Homo sapiens: one gene and its partners. The protein of the gene in region 1 binds, or shares a complex with, the protein of each later gene. Each region holds a gene or a part of one and is shown on either strand. Other genes may lie near its edges. A codon is read from its position in the direction of its gene.

What was found. Proteins that work in one complex are often made in the same cells at the same time.
Region 2: the proteins of TIMM10 (region 1) and TIMM9 are in contact, whole or in part, in a crystal structure (PDB 2BSK), measured with the Homo sapiens proteins. Residues at the interface, in NP_036588.1 of Homo sapiens: Glu16 (codon at 5,396), Met17 (codon at 5,399), Asp20 (codon at 5,408), Met21 (codon at 5,411), Arg24 (codon at 5,420), Ala28 (codon at 6,632), Cys29 (codon at 6,635), Lys32 (codon at 6,644), Cys50 (codon at 6,698), Arg53 (codon at 6,707), Cys54 (codon at 6,710), Ser56 (codon at 6,716), Lys57 (codon at 6,719), Tyr58 (codon at 6,722), Asp60 (codon at 6,728), Ile61 (codon at 6,731), His62 (codon at 6,734), Arg64 (codon at 6,740), Met65 (codon at 6,743), Gly66 (codon at 6,746), Lys68 (codon at 6,752), Leu69 (codon at 6,755), Leu72 (codon at 6,764); in NP_001291414.1 of Homo sapiens: Lys15, Leu18, Gly19, Tyr21, Asn22, Lys23, Thr25, Glu26, Cys28, Phe29, Leu30, Val33, Asp35, Phe36, Thr37, Thr38, Arg39, Glu40, Val41, Glu45, Thr46, Glu50, Leu53, Leu57.
Region 3: the proteins of TIMM10 (region 1) and TIMM10B are in contact, whole or in part, in a cryo-EM structure (PDB 7CGP), measured with the Homo sapiens proteins. Residues at the interface, in NP_036588.1 of Homo sapiens: Ala6 (codon at 5,366), Leu9 (codon at 5,375), Leu13 (codon at 5,387), Glu16 (codon at 5,396), Met17 (codon at 5,399), Asp20 (codon at 5,408), Met21 (codon at 5,411), Arg24 (codon at 5,420), Ala28 (codon at 6,632), Lys32 (codon at 6,644), Cys50 (codon at 6,698), Asp52 (codon at 6,704), Arg53 (codon at 6,707), Cys54 (codon at 6,710), Ser56 (codon at 6,716), Lys57 (codon at 6,719), Tyr58 (codon at 6,722), Asp60 (codon at 6,728), Ile61 (codon at 6,731), His62 (codon at 6,734), Glu63 (codon at 6,737), Arg64 (codon at 6,740), Met65 (codon at 6,743), Gly66 (codon at 6,746), Lys68 (codon at 6,752), Leu69 (codon at 6,755), Leu72 (codon at 6,764), Asp76 (codon at 6,776); in NP_036324.1 of Homo sapiens: Gln7 (codon at 4,079), Leu11 (codon at 4,091), Leu14 (codon at 4,301), Arg15 (codon at 4,304), Phe17 (codon at 4,310), Leu18 (codon at 4,313), Leu19 (codon at 4,316), Tyr21 (codon at 4,322), Asn22 (codon at 4,325), Arg23 (codon at 4,328), Met24 (codon at 4,331), Thr25 (codon at 4,334), Glu26 (codon at 4,337), Cys28 (codon at 4,343), Phe29 (codon at 4,346), Val33 (codon at 4,358), Pro34 (codon at 4,361), Ser35 (codon at 4,364), Leu36 (codon at 4,367), His37 (codon at 4,370), His38 (codon at 4,373), Arg39 (codon at 4,376), Leu41 (codon at 4,382), Glu46 (codon at 4,589), Leu49 (codon at 4,598), His50 (codon at 4,601), Ala53 (codon at 4,610), Gly54 (codon at 4,613), Ile57 (codon at 4,622), His61 (codon at 4,634).

What each region holds. Positions count from the first base shown.
Region 1 is NC_000011.10:57,527,964-57,535,539, reverse strand, and holds TIMM10 (mitochondrial import inner membrane translocase subunit Tim10), read left to right. Parts: upstream 1-4,785; 5' UTR 4,786-4,882; intron 4,883-5,246; exon of another isoform or gene 5,247-5,305; 5' UTR 5,306-5,350; coding exon 5,351-5,421; intron 5,422-6,621; coding exon 6,622-6,823; 3' UTR 6,824-7,076; downstream 7,077-7,576.
Region 2 is NC_000014.9:58,424,531-58,431,509, forward strand, and holds the start of TIMM9 (mitochondrial import inner membrane translocase subunit Tim9), read right to left. Parts: upstream 3,002-6,979; 5' UTR 2,862-3,001; intron 2,713-2,861; 5' UTR 2,524-2,712; intron 1-2,523. Other genes in the region: KIAA0586 (protein TALPID3), read left to right, coding at 3,099-3,107, 3,708-3,933, 4,833-4,903, 6,118-6,187. UniProt on the Homo sapiens protein: Mitochondrial intermembrane chaperone that participates in the import and insertion of multi-pass transmembrane proteins into the mitochondrial inner membrane.
Region 3 is NC_000011.10:6,477,457-6,484,501, forward strand, and holds the start of TIMM10B (mitochondrial import inner membrane translocase subunit Tim10 B), read left to right. Parts: upstream 1-4,044; 5' UTR 4,045-4,060; coding exon 4,061-4,099; intron 4,100-4,300; coding exon 4,301-4,396; intron 4,397-4,588; coding exon 4,589-4,765; 3' UTR 4,766-7,045. Other genes in the region: ARFIP2 (arfaptin-2), read right to left, coding at 262-436, 585-742, 1,282-1,503, 1,684-1,901, 2,516-2,612, 2,867-2,965. UniProt on the Homo sapiens protein: Component of the TIM22 complex, a complex that mediates the import and insertion of multi-pass transmembrane proteins into the mitochondrial inner membrane.

The sequences.
Region 1 (7,576 bases):
TCTCTGCACCTCTCATGAGTGGTCAGGGCCCACTTGAAGTGATTCTAGATGAAAACTCTGCATCTCTTCTTCTGGGGCTGGGGTCCCACCCAAGAGGACAATACTGACCCACGATGAATGACAAATATACAACTCACCTTTGCAAGGTTGGGAAGGGGTAGAATGCAGGGTAGAATGAGGAGCCAGAGTTTCAGCATGGTGTTGACAGAGATCAGTAGCTTTGGATGACATATCTGGAGTCTAAGGATATCTTCAAAGTCTGAGGCTATCTAAACTGTCTTCTACAAGAAGCAATTCAACTGGGACCATTGGAGATTCCTACCTGTAGGTCTCCACATAGAGGAAAGACACAGTCTCATAGTAAATAATCATAATAACAATAGCATCATCATCAATAAGAGCAATGGTTTTCCAGAGGCTGAGCAGCTGGGGAGATGGAGAGTTGCTGTTCAATGGGTATACAATTTCAGTTATGCAAGATGAATAAGTTCTAGAAATCTGTGTACAATATGGTACATATAGTTAACAATACTATTTTGTGCACTTAAAAATTTGTTGGCCGGGCGCGGTGTATAAAGCACTTTGGGAGGCCAAGGCAGGTGGATCATGAGGTCAGGAGACTGAGACCATCCTGGCCAACATGGTGAAACCCCATCTCTACTAAAAACACAAAAATTAGCTGGGTGTGGTGGCATGCGCCTGTAGTCCCAGCTACTTGGGAGGCTGAGTCAGGAGAATCCCTTGAACCTGGGAGGCAGAGGCTGTAGTGAGCGGAGATCGTGCCACTATCCTCCAGTCTGGTGACAGAGCGAGACTCCGTTTAAAAAAATTTTTTTTGTTAAGCAGGGCCCAGTGCAGTGACTCATGCCTGTAATGCCAGTGCTTTGGGAGGCTGAGGCAGGAGGATCGCTTGAGGCCAGGAGTTTGAAACCAGCCTGGACAACATAGCAAGACCCTATCTCTACAAAAAATTTTAAAAACCACTCAGGCATGGTGGCTTGCGCCTGTAGTCCTAGCTATTCAGGAGGCTGAGATGGGAGGATTGCTTGAGCCCAGGAGTTTAAGCTAACAGTGAGCTATGATTGGGTCTCTGCACTCCAGGCTGAGCGACAGAGACCCTGTCTCAAGGAAAAAATAAATAAATAAAAGGGCTTTATCTGTTAGAGATAAAAATAGATGAAGAAAATATGGACAAATGTTAACAATTCCTAAGTCCTGGTGATGAATATATGGAAGCTCAATGTCCTGTTCTCTCTGCTTTTCTGTATGTTTTAAATATTCCATCTGGGCATGGGGTGGCTCATGCCTGTAATCCCAGCACTTTGAGAGGCCAAGACAGGAGGATTGTTTGAGCCCAGGAGTTTGAAACCAGCCTGGGAAACATGATGAGACCCTATCTCTTAAAAAAAAAAATTAGCCAGGCATGGTGGCTCATGCCTCTAGTTCCAGCTACTTAGGAGGCTGAGGTAAGAGGATTGCTTAAGCCAAGGAGTTCACGATTGCAGTGAGCACTGATCATACCATTGCACTCAAGCCTGGGTGACAAGGCAAGATCCTGCCTCAAAAATCCTAAGTAAAAATAAAAATAAATTTGCCCCAGTGAAAGTTTAAAAATGAAAAAGAATGAAAACAATGATTTATTTTTATTGAGCATCTACCATGGACTAGGTACTTTACTTACACAATCTTTTATATAAATATTTTTCTTTCTTTCTTTATGGCCAGCTCTTACTCATACTTGTATAATCTTATTTGTTTTCTTTTTTGTAGAGATTTTTAAAACTTTTTATTTAGAAATAATTATAGTTTCACAGGAAGTTGCATTAATAGTACAGAGAGGTCCTGTACGCCCTTTACCAACTTCCACTAAAGGTTAAATCTAACATAACTATATTCAATATCAAAGCCAGATAATTTATATTGGTACAATGTGTGTGTGTAGTAGTTCTATGACTTTTTTTTTCTTTCTTTTTTTTTTTTAGACCGAGTCTTGCTCTGTCGCCCAAGCTGGAGTGCAGTGGCACAATCTCGGCTCACTGCAACTTCTGCCTCCCGCCTCCCGGGTTCAAGCGATTCTCCTGTCTCGCCCTCCTGAGTAGCTGGGACTATAGGCGCATGCCACCACACCCGGCTGATTTTTTTTATTTTAGTAGAGACGGGGTTTCACCATGTTAACCAGGATGGTCTCGATCTCCTGACCTCGTGATCCACCCGCCTCGGCCTCCCAAAGTGTTGGGATTACAGGTGTGAGCCACCGCGCCTGGCTTTTTTTTTTTTTTTGAGACGGAGTCTCACTCTGTCGCCTGGGCTGGAGTGCAGTGGCACGATCTCGGCTCACTGCAACCTCCACCTCCCGGGTTCAAACGATTCTCCTGCCTCAGGCTCCTGAGTAGCTGGGGTTACAGGTGCCCGCCACTACCCCCAGCTAATTTTTTGTATTTTTAGTAGAGACGGAGTTTCACCAACAAGGCTGGTCTCGAACTCCTACCTTGTGATTCGCTCGCCTGGGCCTCCCACAGTGCTGGGATTACAGGCGTGAGCCACCGCACCCTGCCAGTTCTATGACATCTTATCACCTGTGTAGATTCTTGTAACCACCACCACAATCAGGATACAGAATTATCCATCAACACAAAGATCTCTCTTGTGCTACCCTTTACAGGTACACTTCTATCTCCCCATCAACCCTAACACTAGACAATCAGAAATCTCTTCTCCATCTCTATAATTTTGTGATTTTGAGAATGTTACTTAAATGAAATCATACAGTATGCAACCTTTCATAAGGCCCAGTAGATATTGCAAGATTCCTCTTGTAAGAAACCATCTCCTTTTCCCACGCAGTTTCTTAACTTTCCATAATGTTTCTTTTTTGCGGGGAGTGGGGGGTCGGAGTTTCACTCTTGTTGCCCAGGCTGGAGTGCAATGGTGCGATCTTGGCTCACTGCAACCTCTGCCTCCCGGGTTCAAGTGTTTCTCCTGCCTTAGCCTCCTGCTTAGCCTCTTGAGTAGCTGGGATTACAAGCACCCGTCACCACACCGGGCTACTTTTTTGTATTTTTAGTAGAGATGGGGTTTCACCAAGTTGGCCAGGCTGGTCTCGAACTCCTGACCTCAGGTGATCCACCCACCTCAGCCTCCCAAAGTGCTGGGATTACAGGCGTGAGCCACTGCACCCGGCCAATGTTGACTATATTTTCAAAGGCAAAAACCAAGGCAAGATATGTCCATCTGTACAAGAGTATCATAGCAGCATTATTGCATAATAGGCAAAAACTGGAAACAATCCAAACATCCACCAACGGGAGAATGGATAGATGAATTGTGGCATACTCATACAATCAAACACTAGACAGCAATAAAACAGAAGGAATAACAGATGCACACAACAATATGGAGGAAATCTTACAGGTACATTGAGCTAAAGAAGTCAGGCACAAAATAGAAAATAATGTATAATTCCATTTACACGAAGTTCAAGAACAAGGAAAACTAATTGATGGTGATAGAGGTCAGAATAGTGGTTAACTTCGAGAGGGGGTATTGATGGGGAAGGAACACAAGATAACTTTTTGGGGTGCAGGAAGTATTTTATATCTTGATCTGGATGGCGGTTATACAAATGTACATATATAGATACATATATATTTAATTAAGCTTAACATTCGTGTATTTTATGCACTTTATGAATGTTATACCCCAATCTTTAAAAATCAGGGCACAAGTTTGGCAAAGATGAGTCTTCAAAGCAGTAGAAAGGTCAATTGTTTAAAATTAGGATGGTCTTGGACAATTAGGGAAGCTTATGATGACCACACAGAAAATGTCTAGCCCACCTTTTCCAATGGGCAATGTGCCCTTGCGTCATTAATTTACATCTTGTAAATTTATTTTACCAGGAAATTGTGTGACAAATCAAGGGACTGAGTATTGTTTCCTTGTTTCCTTCTTTTTAGTGGGGAATGAGTGAATGGTGCAGTTTGAAGAACACATTAAGTCTTGAAAGTTGGAAAGTTCACCAGTACCCTTCTTTCCCTCACCCAAGATTAGCCCTGGTGGCAGCCGAAATTGCTTTTATTATCTCTTTGTGGCTGAGGACCTCTAACTGTTGAAGAAAACATATTTTACACGTCTTGTCTTTCTGCGAACAGGAAGCCTATCTCGCTTATCTTTGCAACCCCAGACGGGGCTTAGTGTGACCTACACACAGCAGTAATCGCACAACGTCCCGTGGAGCACTGCTTCTCAAATTTGGCTGTACATACGAATCACCTGGGGAATTTTAAATTGTATTGCTGCCTGAGGAATTTTAAACTGTACTCCCAGAGATTCTGATTTAATTGAAATGAGGTGAGTCCTGGGCACTGGGATGTTTAAAAACGTTCCAGGTGATTTTAACGCGAAACAAAAACAGAACCGCTGTTTGGGGGCGTTCTTCCTTCTCCACGCCTGATTTGCGCACAGGAGTCGGCTGTCTGGAACGGGGGTGAGGTTCACAGGTGTCTGTCGCCACGCCTCTTCCTACAGAACCAATAAACTGAAGCCGCTCGGTGACATCCCAAAGGACTTGAATTCTGATCGGGCTGCAGACGCTCTGCACCCCGCCCAAGCTTCTATGGTACTTTGGTGTCCTCTCTAGCACTGGCAAGTCGCCTTCCTCTTCGCCCGGCGCCAGCCGCTCCCTCTCTATGATCGCCGAGTTCCCGGCGCCGTCTCGTTGGTATTTAATTCCGGAAGCGAGTTTGAATCAAAGAAGAGGCGGGACTTTCCTCCCGGAAGTAACCCACGTGCTTCCGCTGGAGCCTCTCGGGAGGCGGGTAACGTTATAGTATTTGTCAGAAGTTGGGGTCTCCGTGGGCATTGTGATCCGTCCCAGGCAGTGGTAAGTGACACATGACCTCTGAATTCAATGTGGCCCTGATGATGGCGTCGCCATTTCAGAGGTGTAGCCTTTGGGCTGGGTCCCGGTCGCCTCTGTTCAGCGTATGATCCCATTCCCAGGGCCCTGGAGGTTCAGGTTCGTGGGTTAGAGAGTTCTCCTCCGGTCCTCGATCTCCTGAATAGAGGTGACCTCCAGGAACTGGGGCATCAGAGATCCGGGGCTCGATTTCCAGGCTCGCCATAGACGTCCTGTGCGACCTTGGGCTAGGCCTCAGTTTCCACATCCGTGAAATGGGGTGGTTAAGCTCACTGAGGTTAGTGGCCCGTGGTGGTCTGGCGCCCTGTGAGTCCTCTGTATCCTCTAGCCCCAGGGGTAGGAGAGTGAACGGCGGCGGTGGGTGCTGATGGTGATGTCTGCTCCCAGGATTAGGAGGCCAGAAGGAGATCCCTTCCACGGTGCTAGGCTGAGATGGATCCTCTCAGGGCCCAACAGCTGGCTGCGGAGCTGGAGGTGGAGATGATGGCCGATATGTACAACAGGTAAAGAGAACTATGTGCTACCCTGTCTTGGAAAATAAGTCTTGGTCACCCTTATCGAAGGTGAATGACTTATGACAAATTCCTTCCTGAATGTAGGGGAGCCTGAGGCCCATGCTTACCCTCCCCACACCCACCTTCAAGGTTGATCCTAATGTAGATGCAGTAAAGGGTCACTAGAATGAGTTGGGCATTTAGATGGGGATGGAACTGGCAATGCAGGAGCCAAGCAGGAAGAGAAACTCCAATCCAGGCTCTGGTTAGGTTCCAAGAAAAGCTGAGTATTTGCCTCTTGACAAATAGCACATAGCCAGCCCATTTAGTAGTTAACATTTTAAAACCCTTTATTCTGTGTCAGGCACTTGTTAATCTTCAAAATAATCCAGTGGGTTAATTTTATTAGTCCCGTCTTAAAATGAGGAAATTGATGATTCTAGAGGTTAAGTAACTTCCTTAGGGTCGGCAGCTGGTCAGTAACAATGCCAGAACTAGCACCTCAGTCTGATTCTGCAACTAGTGCTCATAACCATTTGGCAAATTTGGGAACAAATCCTGGCTCCACCAATCACCAGCAGTATAATTGGACATGTTACTTGCACTGTTTGACAATTGGTTTCCTCATTATGAAGAAGACATAATGATACCTACCTCATAGGACATCATAAATATTAAATCTAAAAATATATGAAAGCCCTTAGCCTCAAGCCCAACACTTAGTGAAATGTCTGCTATTTTTATTGGCTTAAGCTCTCTTGATTGGTTGGTTTATCCTGAAGGCTATAAATTAGAAGGATTTTTAAGTGTAGACTGTGAGGTCAGATGACCTGGCTTCATAACCCAGCTCTGTGTGATCCTTAGAAAATTACTGAGCCTCTGTTTGCCTTAATTTCCTCATCTGTAAAATGGGGATACATGTCTCTTAGGGTTATTGTAAGCATTGCATAACAGAATGCAGGTAAAGCACTTAGCAGGATGCCTGGCATGTAGCCAGTCCTCAACAAATGGTTTCTACTTAGTTAGTCATATACATGGACTTAGACAAGTTTCCTACTTGCAAGGACCTTCCAGTGGTTGAGGTGTAAACTGAGGATTTACACTGCTTTCTTGGGGGAGGTGAAATCAATATAGCAGGGCTGGAATGGTCAAGGTTCCTGGGATGTCACAGGATGCTGCTGACATGACCTTGCCCCTCCCTCCCTCCAGAATGACCAGTGCCTGCCACCGGAAGTGTGTGCCTCCTCACTACAAGGAAGCAGAGCTCTCCAAGGGCGAGTCTGTGTGCCTGGACCGATGTGTCTCTAAGTACCTGGACATCCATGAGCGGATGGGCAAAAAGTTGACAGAGTTGTCTATGCAGGATGAAGAGCTGATGAAGAGGGTGCAGCAGAGCTCTGGGCCTGCATGAGGTCCCTGTCAGTATACACCCTGGGGTGTACCCCACCCCTTCCCACTTTAATAAACGTGCTCCCTGTTGGGTGTCATCTGTGAAGACTGCCAGGCCTAGGCTCTCTGTAGAGAGTCTTCAAGATCCCGGAGTGGTAGCGCTGTCTCCTGGTGAAGGAGTATTTGTCACACTGGAATGTGACTGTGTGTGTATGTATGTGTATATATATATATATATATATATATATATATATAAACAAGTTTGTTGACACCTACTATGTGCAAAGCAGTGTGCTTGGCATTTGAGAGTAAAGAAAACAGACACAGCCCCTACCAGCAGAGGGAGATTAATGAGTGTTTAAGAGTAAGACAGGCCGGGCAAGGTGGCTCATGCCTGTAATCTCAGCACTTTGGGAGGCTGAGGTGGGTGGATCACTTGAGGTCAGGAGTTCAAGACCAGCCTGGCCAACATGGCAAAACCCCGTCTCTACTAAAAATACAAAAATTAGCTGGGTGTAGTGGCGGGTGCCTGTAATCCCAGCTACTCAGGAGGCTGAGGCAGGAGAATCGCTTGAACCCAGGAGGCGGAGGTTGCATGAGCTGAGATTGTGCCACTGTCCTCCAGCCTGGGCAACAGAGTGAGACTCCATCTCAAAAAAAAGTAAGACAGCTTAGGTTTGCCTGCTGTCTGCTGCTTTTTGTGTGGCCCTGCACCTGTCACTTTTGTGTGCTTTAGCTTCCGCATCTGTAAAATAGGGTTAGCCCCCTGACTAAT
Region 2 (6,979 bases), on another chromosome or scaffold:
CACATATCATCTATCTAAAAATATTTTCCAAATAGCCAAATATATGTTATAAGCTAAGTGACTGACCAGGTGCAGTGGCTCAATCCCAGCATTTTGGGAGGCTGAGGTGGGTGGATAGCTTGAGCCCAAAAGTTCTACATCAGCCTGGGCAACATGGCAAAACCCCATCTCTACAAAAAATACAAAAATGAGCCGGCATGGTGGTGTGCACCTGTAGTCCCAGCTACTCAGGAGGCTGAGGCAGGAGGATCACTTGAGCCCAGGAGCTTGAGGCTGCAGTGAGCCATGATCACGCCACTGCTCTCTTGCCTGGGTGACAGAAAGAGACCCTGTCTCAAAGAAAAAACGTATAAGCTAAGTCATAAAACCTAGCATCACAAACATGGGTGCCAACATTAGGTATTTCTTGGTGGGATGCAGTAAGACAGCATCACCTATGTGGTATTCTGGCCAAAGTTTGATATGGCTCTAATCATGAGGGAATAATTAGGAAAATCTACAACATGGAACAATTTGTAAGACAACCTGGCTGGTCTTTTCAAAAGTGTCAGTCATAAAGAAAAGGGGTTGAGAGGGCTGATTTAGAGTGAGAAAATAAGGCCAGGCATGATGGTTCACGCCTGTAATCCCAGCACTTTGGGAGGCTGAGGTGGGCAGATCACGTGCGGTCAGGAGTTCCAGACCAGCCTGGCCAACATGGTGAAACCCCATCTTTACTAAAAACACAAAAATTATCTGGGCAGAGTGGCGGGTGCCTATAATCCCAGCTATTTGGGAGGCTGAGGCAGAAGAATCACTTGAACCCAGGAGGCAGAGGTTGCAGTGAGCTGAGAAAATAAGCCTGGGCAATAAGGCGAGACCTAGTTTCTACAAAAAAGTAAAAAATTAGCCAGCGTGGTGGCAAGTGCTTGTAGTCCTAGCTACTCAGGAGGCTGAGACAGGAGGATTGCCTGAGCTCAGGAGTTGAAGGCTTCAGGGAGCTATGATCATGACAGAGCAAGGCCCTGTCTCTGGAAAAAAAAAAAAAAAGAGGGAAAGGAACTAAAGAGTAATGACAAAGAGCTGTAAGATCCAAATTAAGTTGTCATTTTAATAATTCAGAGTGCCTACACTCAGATCTTAGGTCACTGTTTCTTTCACATAAGTTTCACCTAGAAGGTAAGAGTTAAACTATCTCCAAGGTCTCTGGCGACTCTGACATTGTAGTTCTTTCAGTACACTCATAATATACAATAAATTGTGAACAAACAAGTACCACCTATGAGCCCAATTACGAAGAGAAAATGTAACTAAAATAAAAAATAATGGCCACGTGCGGTGGCTCACGCTTGTAATACTAGCACTTTGGTAGGCCGAGGCGGGTGAATCAAGTCAGGAGTTCGAGACCAACCTGGCCAACATGGTGAAACCCCGTCTCTAATAAAAATACAAAAAAAATTAGCTGGGCGTGGTGGCGGGCGCCTGTAATCCAGCTACTCAGGAGGCCTGAGGCAGAAGAATCGCTTGAACCTGGGAGGCGGAGGTTGCAGTGAGCCAAGATCGCGCCACTGCACTCCAGCCTGTGCCACAGAGTGAGACTTTGTCTCAAAAAACAACACAAAACTCATTAGAGAAACTCAGCAAGTTACAAAAAAATAATAATTAAAAGGGTCTTTAACGCTGAGCCCTTAAAGTCTTTTTTTTTCTTTTTTTTTTAAGACAGTCTTGATCTGTCACTCAGGCTGGAGCACAATGGCGCGATCTCAGCTCACTGCAACCTCCACCTGCCGGGTTCAAGCAATTCTCTTGCCTCAGCCTCCTGAGTAGCTGGGACTACAGGCGCGCGCCACCATGCCCAGTTAATTTTTTGTATTTTCAGTAGAGGCGGGGTTTCACCTTGCTGGCCAGGCTGGTCTCGAACTCCTGATCTCGTGATCCGCCCGCCTTGGCCTCCCAAAGTGCTGGGATTACAGGCGTGAGCCACCGCGCTCAGACTTTAAAGTCCATTTTAAGTCTAGACTTCTATGAAGGTAGACTGCCGAGATGTAAAAGAAATAAAATTAGTTATTTAGCTTTTAGATCGGATTACATTTTCTGCTTTGATTATTCTAAAGCCTCCAGTAAGGCGTAAAGGGAAAGCTCTAAGTAGCGCATCCTGGGAAATGAGCAGATCAGGGAAGGGGTGTTAGACCTGGTATTATGTCTAAAGACGATTTTCATTTAAAGGAGGATCTTCCCCCGGGCAGCTCAAGGTCACATCGTAAATACCTTATAGTCTAATTCAGTGTCCCAAAACAGGACCCCGACTCCCCAGATCCGGGTTGGGGGTGGCTCAGGGCCTAAAGTTCCTACCCTCGCCCAGGTGACACCATCTCCAGGAAGGTCTGCACCCGACCCGGCGAAGCGCTGTCCCGCTTCGCACCCCCCACTGCTCCAGGTACGTGCGGCGGCCTCCTCGGGAGACCCCGCCACTTTCCTGGAGCGTAGCCTGCCACCCCCCGTCCGGGAACCCCGGATTCTCACGGCAGAGAACAGACACCATACTTAAGCACAGGCTCTCGCATCCGACATCAGTACAAGGCTGGGGGTTGTTGGGGGACGGTTGAGCCTTGGGAGGGAGGGTCAGGGTCTGGACAGGAGCCGCGGCCGCCAGATGGGAAAGAACACGTGGGAGCAGTAATGTCAAGTGACACTTAAACCCTTAGACGCCGATTCGTTATAACGCGAGGAAATCTAGAAGAAAAAGCAGGTACCATCAGCGAATTCTAAAATCTCCTAAGGATTAACTTCGGTTATTTTCTGCTTAGACAACGCTTTCTATTCCCGACTTCCTCTCCAATAATGACCCGAATCTGTCGAAACTTCTTGGAAGCCTAATTTACCTAATCCCACGTCCCTAACGGTCTTCGGAAGCGAAGCAGTGTCAACAGTCCCTGGTAAACACAAGTAGTATTACAAGTCGGGAGCTCTTCAAGTCTTGGATGAGACTGTAGAGCGGTCTTGTGCGGCAATGTGCTACCTTAAAATAAATAAATAAATAAACCCCTGTTATGTCCGGAGTTTGTTTCCACCCGGAGAGGAATGGAAGAGCACCAGAGAGCGCTTAGCTTTCTGGTTGGATGTTTTGGGTGAGTTTCTTGGCGCGCATGCGTGTTGTGTCTCAAGGGCGGGTTTGAAGGGAAGTGGGTGTTGACCTGCGGGCAACTGACGCTGTTGTCAGATTACACCCACGACGGTGCGGGTCTCGGGCGTTCTGGAGATACGTAGGGGTGAATTTATGTTTCCGACGATTGCATCTGGAGGGGTGTGTAAGACTCTGTGGCTGAAGAAAGCTATTACGCTTCTTATGTGGGTCATTATTTTAAAAATAGCATTTCGCTTTTATTTGCTTGACTGCCTCTTCTCAACAAATTTTAAGCCCGCCACTACATGTGTTTGGTTTTGCCCTACCAGCTCTGGGGTTGGGGAGTGCACTGTTATGGTTATTGTTGCTCCTGTGGCCATTCTCTTGTCATCCCCACTTTCACATTTTGGCGTGGTGTATTAATAGACTGAGTGGGATTAATGGGTAAATATGACTTTATAGTCAGCTCTAATCCTGGATTCAATATCAGAATTTAGATTTTCAGCTTTGTGGATGTTCGACATTTTAAAAACAGTTATTGCAAAGAGGTGAAAATTTTGTTCTGAAGTCTTAAGGAAACAGAGAAAGTTTTTCCGTCCTTAAGTGTGGGACTTGTTTTGTGACCAACAATATGAAAGGCTCTGAGGTCAGCTTGGAGAAGAAAAAAAAGATTAAGATGCCAGTGAAGAGACTTCGTGAGGTAGTTTCTCAAAATCATGGAGATCATTTGGTTTTGCTGAAAGATGAGTTGCCCTGTGTTCCTCCGGCATTGTCTGCAAATAAACGTCTTCCTGTTGGAACGGGGACTAGTTTGAATGGAACATCACGTGGTATGTGATTCCATGTAGTTTTTCAACCAGTTTTAGTTTAGTAAATCTTTAGTCCTTATTTGTTTAAATTCCCAAACGTAAGATATAAGTCTAGTTTGTACAGATGTTTGAAAACTGACCCTGTTTCCCGGGAAAATGGCCAGGAAGCCTATAAAATGTTTGAATAGATGGAATGAATGAAACTTTAACGTCCCCTGTTGTGCTTTTTTTTTTTTTTTTTGCATTGACTTTTGCATATTTTTTTTTTTATATTTATGGTGGATACACTTAACTTGTATAATGTGCTTTATTTTCCCCCACGTAGTGTTTTTTATAGTTTTCCCCCAAAGTAGTGCTTTTTACCTAATTCACTACTTTCTTTTCATAGTGGGAAAAGCAGGACTTCTGCCAATTGATGGCTTCTATATTCCAATTCACTTAATCTGTCTAGAGCTCAGTGAAAATAAGGATAACATATGCTTTACCCACTTCGCTGCTAATTGTGAGGATTAAATTAATGAATATGTGAGCAAAAACAGCAAAACGCTTTTGTAATGCTGTTCTTTGGGGGATACAGCGGTGACACTCAAATAGTACTGCTGTTAAATTAGACCTTTACATCGTATACATATTTCTACCCATAGTTTGTCCACATCCAATAGTGTATGGTTATATTTTAAAATGTTTCGTGCTTAATCTCACTTTATTGTCAGTACCGAACCTTATTTTCCCAAATATCAACTGTAAAAACTTTCATTCAGATATGTTTAAATACATTTTCTTAACTTTTTTTGCATGCAAATTGTCTTTCCAACTTCTGCGTTATATGGAGTTTATAGATCTTGAATCATGCATATACAGTTTCTAAAGCTAAGGATCTGATTTTAAAATCACTAAAATCTATTCCTTTGTTTTGTTAGGTTCATCAGACTTAACTTCTGCTAGAAATTGTTACCAGCCTCTATTAGAAAATCCCATGGTGTCAGAAAGTGTAAGCAAAAGGATTCTTAATTATGCTCACGTTAAAATTTTCAGTATTGTCAAATAATGCATTCTTAAATTATGTTTGATTAGCAGCATGCCTTGTTTTTATTTAAATATCACTTACCAAAACAAATGTTTTATATACTACAATTGTGACTTTGAATGGTGTTTGAGACATTAAACAAAAGGCCTTCCCTAGAATCAAAAATACCTATTAGTAAGATAATGGCCGCTGAAAGAGATAGGATAACTGAAAAGAAACTCTCTTACTATTCAGGGAAAAGGTGTTCTTGCCCAGAGACTTAACATGTTCTTAGGTAAAAGAAAAGGAACAACTAACAGTACAATTTTTCTTTAATGTGAGGTGTGCTTGCATGTCATTCTAACACTTGTGAGAATGGTTTTGGTTTTCTTAGAAGGGAGGTTCTTTAAGAATAACATGAAATTATCATCTTAACTTTATAATGCCGAAAGTATTTGATAAATACAATGTTTTGGTTATGAGATCTAATCAGACTTTGACGGCTAATCATAGTGTTGACCTATGTATTGTCAGTTTAATAAGTCTGTATAATGAGAGTTTCACAATATGCTATTTTGAAAATTGAAGCTGGCAAACTAATAATTCAATTGAGACTATATGACAATTTTGTCAAAAGCTCACAATAAAATGTATAATTATTTGCTGTACTTGATCCCTAAGTAAATGCCTAGACTTTGGAGTGTTTTTTTGTTGTTTTGTCTTTTTTTTTTTTAAGCAGGCCTTATTTAATGATATCTAAACTTCTCAAATGTATGGATACACTGTTATTGTATAATTGAGAATAAATGGGTGATCTTCGTGATGTTGTGCCATCCTTATCTACTCCATTTGACTCACAGTGAGTCAGATTTTCACATTTCACTGAAGCAACTGAGATGTTAAATGACTTGCTCTGCTACAAGTGGCAAACTGGTTTGAGTCTGAATCTCAGTGCTACATTTGCTTGCTGGTTCATTTACTCATTCATTCACTTGTCTGATAGTGTATTACTCACCCATTCAACAAATCTTTGAGTAGCTTTAAGGTACATCAGAATTGCATGATGATGGAAATGAAGAATATGAAATACACAGTCCTGCCCTCCCAGAACACAGTAGTCACATAGCTAGTAAACGGTTCTTGATAAATAATAAATCATGAAGTTTATTTAGCCTATTTCTTCCTTTCATATCCCAAAGGATTTTTCTAAAGACGTTGCAGTGCAAGTGTTGCCTTTGGATAAAATAGAAGAGAACAACAAGCAAAAAGGTAAAAGAATAATATTGATTTTTTTAAATTGTGACAACATATACATAACATAAAGTTTACTACTTTAAAATGTACAGTTCTGTGACAGTAAGTACATTCACATTGTTGTACAATCATCATCACCTTTCATATCCAGAGCTTTGTCATCTCTCCCAACTCTACCCATTAAACACTAACTGCTCATTTTTCATCCCCTCAGCCCTGGGCATCCTACTTTTTGTCTCTATGAATTTGACTACCCTAGGTACGTTATATAAGTAGAATCATATAGTATTTGACCTTTTGTGACTGGCTTATTTCACTTAGCATAATGTTTTAAAGGTTCATCCATGTTGTAGTATGTGTCAGAATTTTCTTCTTAAGGGTAGAATTTATTTTTAAACATTTATTACGTAGTCTTATAGTTTTTATTATTTTCATTTTAAATTAGTTTTTCTTCCCAAATTAAGCTATCACTAGAAGCTATAAAATCCAGAATAAGGTTTGCAATGGTGAAGGTTATCTTGTTATTACCAACCTATTGCAGAGGTTTAGTATTAGATATGTTTATAAATTTTTTTTTTGAGACGGAGTCTCCCTCTGTTGTCCAGGCTGGGGTGCAGTGGCGTAATCTCAGCTCACTGCAACCTCCAGCTCCCGGGTTCAAGCAATTGTCCTGCCTCAGCCTCCTGAGTAGCTGGGATTACAGGTGCACACCACCACACCCAGCTAATTTTTCTATTTTTTTTTTGTAGAGACAGGGTTTCACCATCTTGACCAGACTGGTCTCAAACTCCTGACCTCAAGTGATCT
Region 3 (7,045 bases), about 51 Mb from region 1:
TGTGGGCCTAGGGTTTTTGTACCCCAGCTCAGGGGGTGATTTTTCCCAGTTATGTTCCTGGGACCAGCAGCCAAATCCTCCAACAGGAAAGGGCCAGGAATTGGAGGGAGGGTGATCTGGAAAGGCCCAGGGGTTGAGGGGGTGAACACTCTACTCCCCAGCTAGGCTGCATTTCCTCATTCAATAATGGGGAGGGTCTGAGGGGAAGGTTAGTGTTACAGATGGAAAGGTGGGCTAGGGTCAAGGGGGTGGGGTTGGCACCTTGTTTTCTTCCAGGAACTTGAGCTTGATGGCCACATCTCCCCGCAGCTTCTCATACTTGTCCCGATGGGCCTGGAAAGTGGCCTGGGCACTCTCAAGTCGACCACGTGTCCCTGCATCCCGGGGGCCTAGACTCAGCTCCTCTAAGTCTGTTCGGTAGGCATCATATTCCAGCCTGGGGAGGGGGTGATAAAGGCTGGTCTCCACTCCTTTATCCTCAACACATACTCTCCTTTCCTTCCTGAATTCTTATGCCCCTAATGCCCAAATTTCCACCCATACCAGCCAACTCCCCAAACCCTAAGCCCTGCCAGTGCCCACACCTGGCAGCCTCATACTGTTTCACAGTCATGAGCGTGTCTTCCATGGTCTTGGTGACCAATGTGTTGATGCTAGAGACAAAGAAGTTCACGGCTCCTAGCAGCGTTTCCCCATTCTTGCATAGTAGTTTCTGTGTCTCTGCATTGTAGCCAAATTCCTCCTGAGGGCAGAAGGGAGGAACAGACCTTGAATAACACTCCCTACCTGACTGAAGCTGTAGAGCCCTTCATTCCCCTCCTCCCCGGGGAGGACACAGCCAGCAAAACTGGAACAACCAAGGACTGCCTCCAGCAAGGCTCTCTTAGCCGGAAAGTTAGTGGGATCACCCTGGGGATACCTGGGGTAGGAATGTGGGTGGTGGGCATTCTTGGGTAAGTTCACAAGACTGGAACAGTCTGAGAGCTAGTGTGGCAAGCAGGGGAGGGGCTCTGATTAGGCTGAGCACGAAGGCATTCTCCCCAGTGCAGAGAGGGGTTATTTGTGAGGCACCTAGTGTGCCCCCTCCCCCACCCCCTCCAACTTCTGGACCTCTGTACAAACCCTTAGGCTGCCTCCACAGGTGAGTGCTGCTGGGGGTAGGGCTGGGCCCACCCTGAAGGGGTTCTCCCTGTGGGCTGCAGGAGGGAGGGAGGATGAGGAATGACTGCCTGGGAGGGCCCATGCCCAGTTCCCCCACCCTCTTTGGTCTGGGTGAGGCACCTGAAGCTCTGGGGACTTCTGGCTGAGGTCAGCAAAGGCATCACCCAGTGCATGCTGGGTCTGCAGCAGGCTGTAGAGGTGGGCTGTCAGTGCCCGGCCCAGCTGCAGGACACTCTCATACTTGCGCTTCGTCTCACGCAGCAACTCAATCTGCAGCTCTAGCTCCAGGTCCACAGTCCGTGAGCCTCGACCAAATCGTTCTGATAACAGTTGCTTTGTGCACTGATTGGGAAATGGGGGAATAAATCAGAGACCCTAACAGCCTCCCCACACAACAGGTATCTACCCCAGCACCCCCCAGGCTCCTACTCTCAGCCACAGATGGGATATTACGATCACGAAGAAAAGGGAAAAAGGTACCCATAAGGAGTTTTGGGGAAGGGAGAGGTGCTTAAATCCTACCTTATAGGTGTTGATGCCCCATTTCTTGACGATGTCAAACTTTTCTCCAGCAATGCCCCGAGCCACCTCATCTCCAGGGCCAGAAGGAGTGGTGCTGTGAGATGGATGGCGGCCAGACCCTAAAGGATCAAGTTCTCTGACACCAGCCTCTCTCAGATACACCAGACACCTCTGTGGCCCCACCCATACTTCTCTTCGAGCACATGAAATTGACTTCCCTGAAGGAGATGCTAGAGACAACTGGATGCTCCTGCTTACTAGGAGGAACTCGGACTTTGCGCGGTGAGAACCAAATCCTGATATACATATGGCCTCCTTGGGGGTTAGAGGAGGGGTTTGCAGGGAGTTGTTGGTGTACAGGGGCAGAGGAAACAGAAGAAAATACACTGAGTTTGGGGGCAGCAGGAGTCAAGGATGGTGGGTCATGATAACAAGAAACCTGGTTGCATTCCCATGTGGAATCTTAGTGTGAGATTCAGGGCTGTTTGTTCCTCTAAACTTTAGAATCTAAAAATTCTGAGAAGCTTCACAAAGTTCCAACTCAGCCTCAAGCTGTAGAGGGGGGGCATTCCTGTGAAGCAGGTCTTAACTTGACTCAGGTGGTGGCAGGGAAAGGACAAATGAGCCATTTCAGGGGCTAAGTGGCAAAAGGGAAATGGATGGACAACGCTGGGAGTTGCTTTTGGGCTGAGGAGAGTCCATGAGGTTCCTACAAGCAGAAGTTCCCAAGATCTCCAGACATAATTCAAGCTTTCCTAGACATATCCTATGCTTCCCCAAACCATTCCTGTCCCCTCCTCCACCCAAGATTCCTGTTTCTGAACATTCATACCTGTGGGGATGAGTCCATCACCAGAGCCCCCATAGCCACCAGACACAATGCTGGTTTCATTGAGGTTGGGTCCTGACACCATCACCTGCTGGAGGTCCTATAGGCCAGAGAAGAGGGGTTGCTTCAGGAACATAGGGGCTGCAGAAGCATTTTGGAGGTGGGAACAAGTTTGGATTCAAGCATCATAAAGATAGTACACAAGGGAAGTCTGCACAGAATCAAAATGATACGTAAAAAGAATGAAGGGAGTCAGATAAGTCAGGGGAAGGCTACTGGAATGGAGGGTGAGAACCTAGGATTTATAAATTGGATTCCTAAATTGAAACAATTAGAAGAATCAAACAGAAGCACCTGCTCCAGCCCATCATCTTCAGGAAGCTGCCTGGCTTCGCCGTTCCCGTGGATAGGGATCTCCATTGTGGCTGCCTTCCCTAGGATCCCGTCCGTCATGGCTAGGAAAGGTATTGGAGTAAAACTCTCCACCCCAGCACCCTGCAAAGCCCAACACAGAAGTTCTGGACACTGGCCAGCACTCTAGAAGAAGGAGGCCTCCTCTGTCATTTCTTTAAAGGCTGTCCCAGGGTTTGAGTGTCCCAGCGTTTGGCCATCATTCCTTTCTTCAGATATATGTATTTCTCCCCTCCAAAACGCACATTTGAAACAGGCACACCAAAGCACGGTGTCTTCTCACAAGCCCCCAACCTCACCAGGACTCTGGTGATTATTTCTACACTCATTCAGCAGACATTTAGTGAGTGCCTACTATGTGTCAGGCACTATTTGTGACAATGAAAATACAACAGTGAAGAGGGAAAGTCTGCTCTCTTAGAACTTATCTCCATGCAGGCGTGTTTATGCTGAGGAGATGAACCCTTTCCAGGGCTCAGGTCTTCACCCCCCTATTCAGGTTTGTTCTCCATTGCTTGGCCTTTCACATTCCTTTAGCGTTTCTTCCCCCTTCCTTCAGGGGGTCTCCCCTCCTCCGTCTCATACACCTCGTCTTCCTCGGGCCCTCCCCACCAGGCCTTAGTTAGATCAGTGGGTGTATGTTCCCAGTCTCTGGTAAAAGCCTCTCTCTCCCAGGATATCGGTGACCCTTCCACAGTCAGTTATGTCTCCCAGGTGTGTGAGTCCCCGCCCCCACCCCCATACACCTGGACATCAGGTGTGTCCTCATCCTTCCCCGGGGCTCGGGGCATCTTGCCCTCTGGACAGGTTTGTGCGTTCAACTTCCCGTCGCCCAAGCATGTTCCTCTCACCTCGGGCCGGGCCGCTCTTCCCCTCAGGGCGCCAGGCCCGGGCCGCGCGGGGACCTCGGGCTCCAGTTCCCGTCGCGATCCTAGCAGCAGGTCAGGGACTCGGCGGAAATGACGTCCTCTCCGGGCAGAAGAAGCCGGCCACGTCGCAGATTATAAGGGCGGAGCTGACGTCGCAGCCAGGGCAGGGCGATACTCGAGCTAGCTCTCGAGATCAGCGAGAGGTTACTTCCGGGGCGGCACCGAGAAGCTGAAACGGAAGTGGCGTACGGCATGCGCCGGTGGCGTGATGGAGCGGCAGCAGCAGCAGCAACAGCAACTGCGAAACGTAAGTGAGAACTAAGTCGTTTCGAGGCCAGACGTTCAGCTCGCATTCCTGCACACATCGCGGGAACCCCACAGGGCCAGGGATTTGAGGGCTGGAAACTTCGGGCTATGGCGCGCGGGCCTGGGAAACTTTGGGCGGCGCGACCTTGACTAGAAGTGTGGGGCCCTTATCGCTGAGTTTGTGGTCCCCCTTTTCTCTCAGCTGCGTGACTTCCTGTTGGTCTACAATCGGATGACAGAACTCTGCTTCCAGCGCTGTGTGCCCAGCTTGCACCACCGAGCTCTGGACGCTGAGGAGGTGGGGAACTGTGTAGGGAGGTTACGCTGCAAGAAGAGTTTAGCGGTAGACTGCTTCCCTCCTCACCCCACTTCCCGTACCTCTGGCCCTGGCCTTCCCACGACCCTCACCCCTAGGCTGGGCATGGGGAAGAAAGGAGGCGGACCCGACAGGGCACCTTTATCCTCCACTTAAACCCTATCTTCCTTCTAGGAGGCCTGTCTGCACAGCTGTGCTGGGAAGCTGATCCATTCCAACCACCGCCTCATGGCCGCTTACGTGCAGCTCATGCCTGCCCTGGTACAGCGCCGCATCGCAGACTACGAGGCTGCCTCGGCTGTGCCAGGCGTTGCTGCTGAACAGCCTGGGGTCTCTCCATCAGGCAGCTAGCCATACCCAACCCCAGGAAGGAAGGCCTTGGATGGACCCTCAGATTGAAGGACCCGGTGGACCTTGGGGTTGGTGAATCCTAAACAGAGAGAATTCGAGGTTGCCTGAAAGCTGGGTGTCCTTGCTCCTTTTCCTGGAGCCAATATACCCAGTTTTTACTCAGTTTGATTTATATTCTGGGCAAGGAAGCTTTGCCTACTTTATTGGCACAATCCGTTGTTCTGTCGTTTAGTGCATATCTGCTGGCTTCAGCCCTGGCAGCTGAGAAATTGTTTTCTATATGTAGAAGGAAAACCTGAGCATTTGCAGGCATCTGGTTAAAGCAGGGTCTGTGTGTACAATTTTAAAACGGGTAATATGTCATGCTCTTAGTTCATCTTCACAACAAAACTATGAGTAAGCGGTATTAGCCTCACTTAACAGATGAGGAAGCAAGATTCCAGAAAGTACCAGAAGGTCATTTTATACAACAGGAGATTGGTTCCTGCCCAGATGACAGAAAATGGGAGCTCTGTCTAGTTGTCCTTAAGTCTGACTGACTTCAGTGGCTCATAACCGTGAGCCAAGTATTTGTTGGTTCATAACTGTTGTTTTGTGAACTATGTCTTACATGTCTAGAGTTCTGCTGGATCTAGGGAAAGGAGGAGCTATCGAAGTACAACGGATCAAAAAACCACAGGGCTTTTGGGCACTGCCTCCTTGGGAAGTTAGTGGCCACAGAAGAGAGATGAAACCTGTAAGAAGTCTGGAGTCTTTTGGAACTTCAGCCATTTCCCCAGGTTGTTACTTTCTTAGTATGTACAGTCTTCTCAGGATGAGCAGTAAAACCTTTGAACAAAGGTCTGTGTGGTTGTCTTCACGGGCAATCAGGAAGGGAGAGAGCTGGGGACCATATTCTGCAATGCAGCCAAATCCGAGGAAGAGAAACTGAAGGGAGAAGTAGATGGCAATGGTTATGATAAAAAGGGATAAAACTAAATCTTCGGGACTTCTTTAATGCTACGTTAATGTTTCACTGCTCGTCTAGAAACTCCTAAATCCAGCTTTCTATCATCTGCCCCACATTGGTCCCATTGAGTACATTCTGTGATTTCTAATTCCAGCCTCTCCATTCTTTTCTCATTATTGCCTCCCCCGCCCCCCAACTTTGTGTAATTTACTTCTGTATTCAGCAGCCTGGATAGCATATCATTCCATCACCCCATTTTCTTGCCACCATTGGCCATCTTTTTGTATCATTCCACTTATTCTGTCTTTTCCATTCCTTCATTCAAACTGCTAGAGAAAAACAGTTGTGTAATGAATGCCACTAAATATTCAAGGCCTCCAACCTCAGCCAAGTCCTCACACCAACACGCAGTCACACCAACACACACCTTTATGGGTTCCTGGTCCATTTCCTTCTCTAATTACCATGGCAGTTATTTTACACCTCTACTGCTGTCCTTAATCCCATACCCCACCCTCATCAGGTGACCCTGTTTCCTTTTTTAGAGAAATTGAAGCTCTTAGACATTGGTTTCCACAGTAATAATTTTAAAACTTCTTACAACTACCTACAAAGCAGATGTTCTATCCTATCTACAGAGCAGAAAATTGAAATTCTCAAGTAGCAGACCCGGTATTAAAGTGCAGATCTGACTTTAAAGTCCATGTTCATTTTACACAGCAGGCTGCCTCTTAAGATAGTATTTATTGAGCACACACTTTGTGTAGGTTCTGATTTTGGTAGATGTCATGCTTTATATTAATCTTTACAACAACTATAAGTAAGAGGTATTAACCTCACTTAACAGATGAGGAAGCAAGAATCCAGAATGTGCCAGAAGGCACATTCTGCAGATTTCGTGCAAACATTTATACACAGCTTCTTTTTTTTTTTTTTGAGACAGAGTCTCGCTCTGTCACCCAGGCTGGAGTGCAGTGGAGCGATCTAGGCTCACTGCAACCTCCGCCACCCGGGTTCAAGCAGTTCTCCTGCCTCAGCCTCTCGAGTAGCTGGGATTACAGGCATGCGCCACCACGCCCAGCTAATTTTGTTTTTGTATTTTAAGTAGAGACGGGGTTTCACTGTATTGGTCAGGCTGGTCTTGAACTCCTGACCTTGTGATCCGCCCGCCTCGGCCTCCAAAAGTGCTGGGATTACAGGTGTGAGCCACCACGGCCGGCCTATACAAAGTTTCTTATTGAGAAAAGTGGTTCCAATCATGTTTTTTGCCCCCTTTAGCTGCTATCTCTTGAACAGAAAAGTTTGTTAGGAAGGTAAAAGTTGCTGACTAG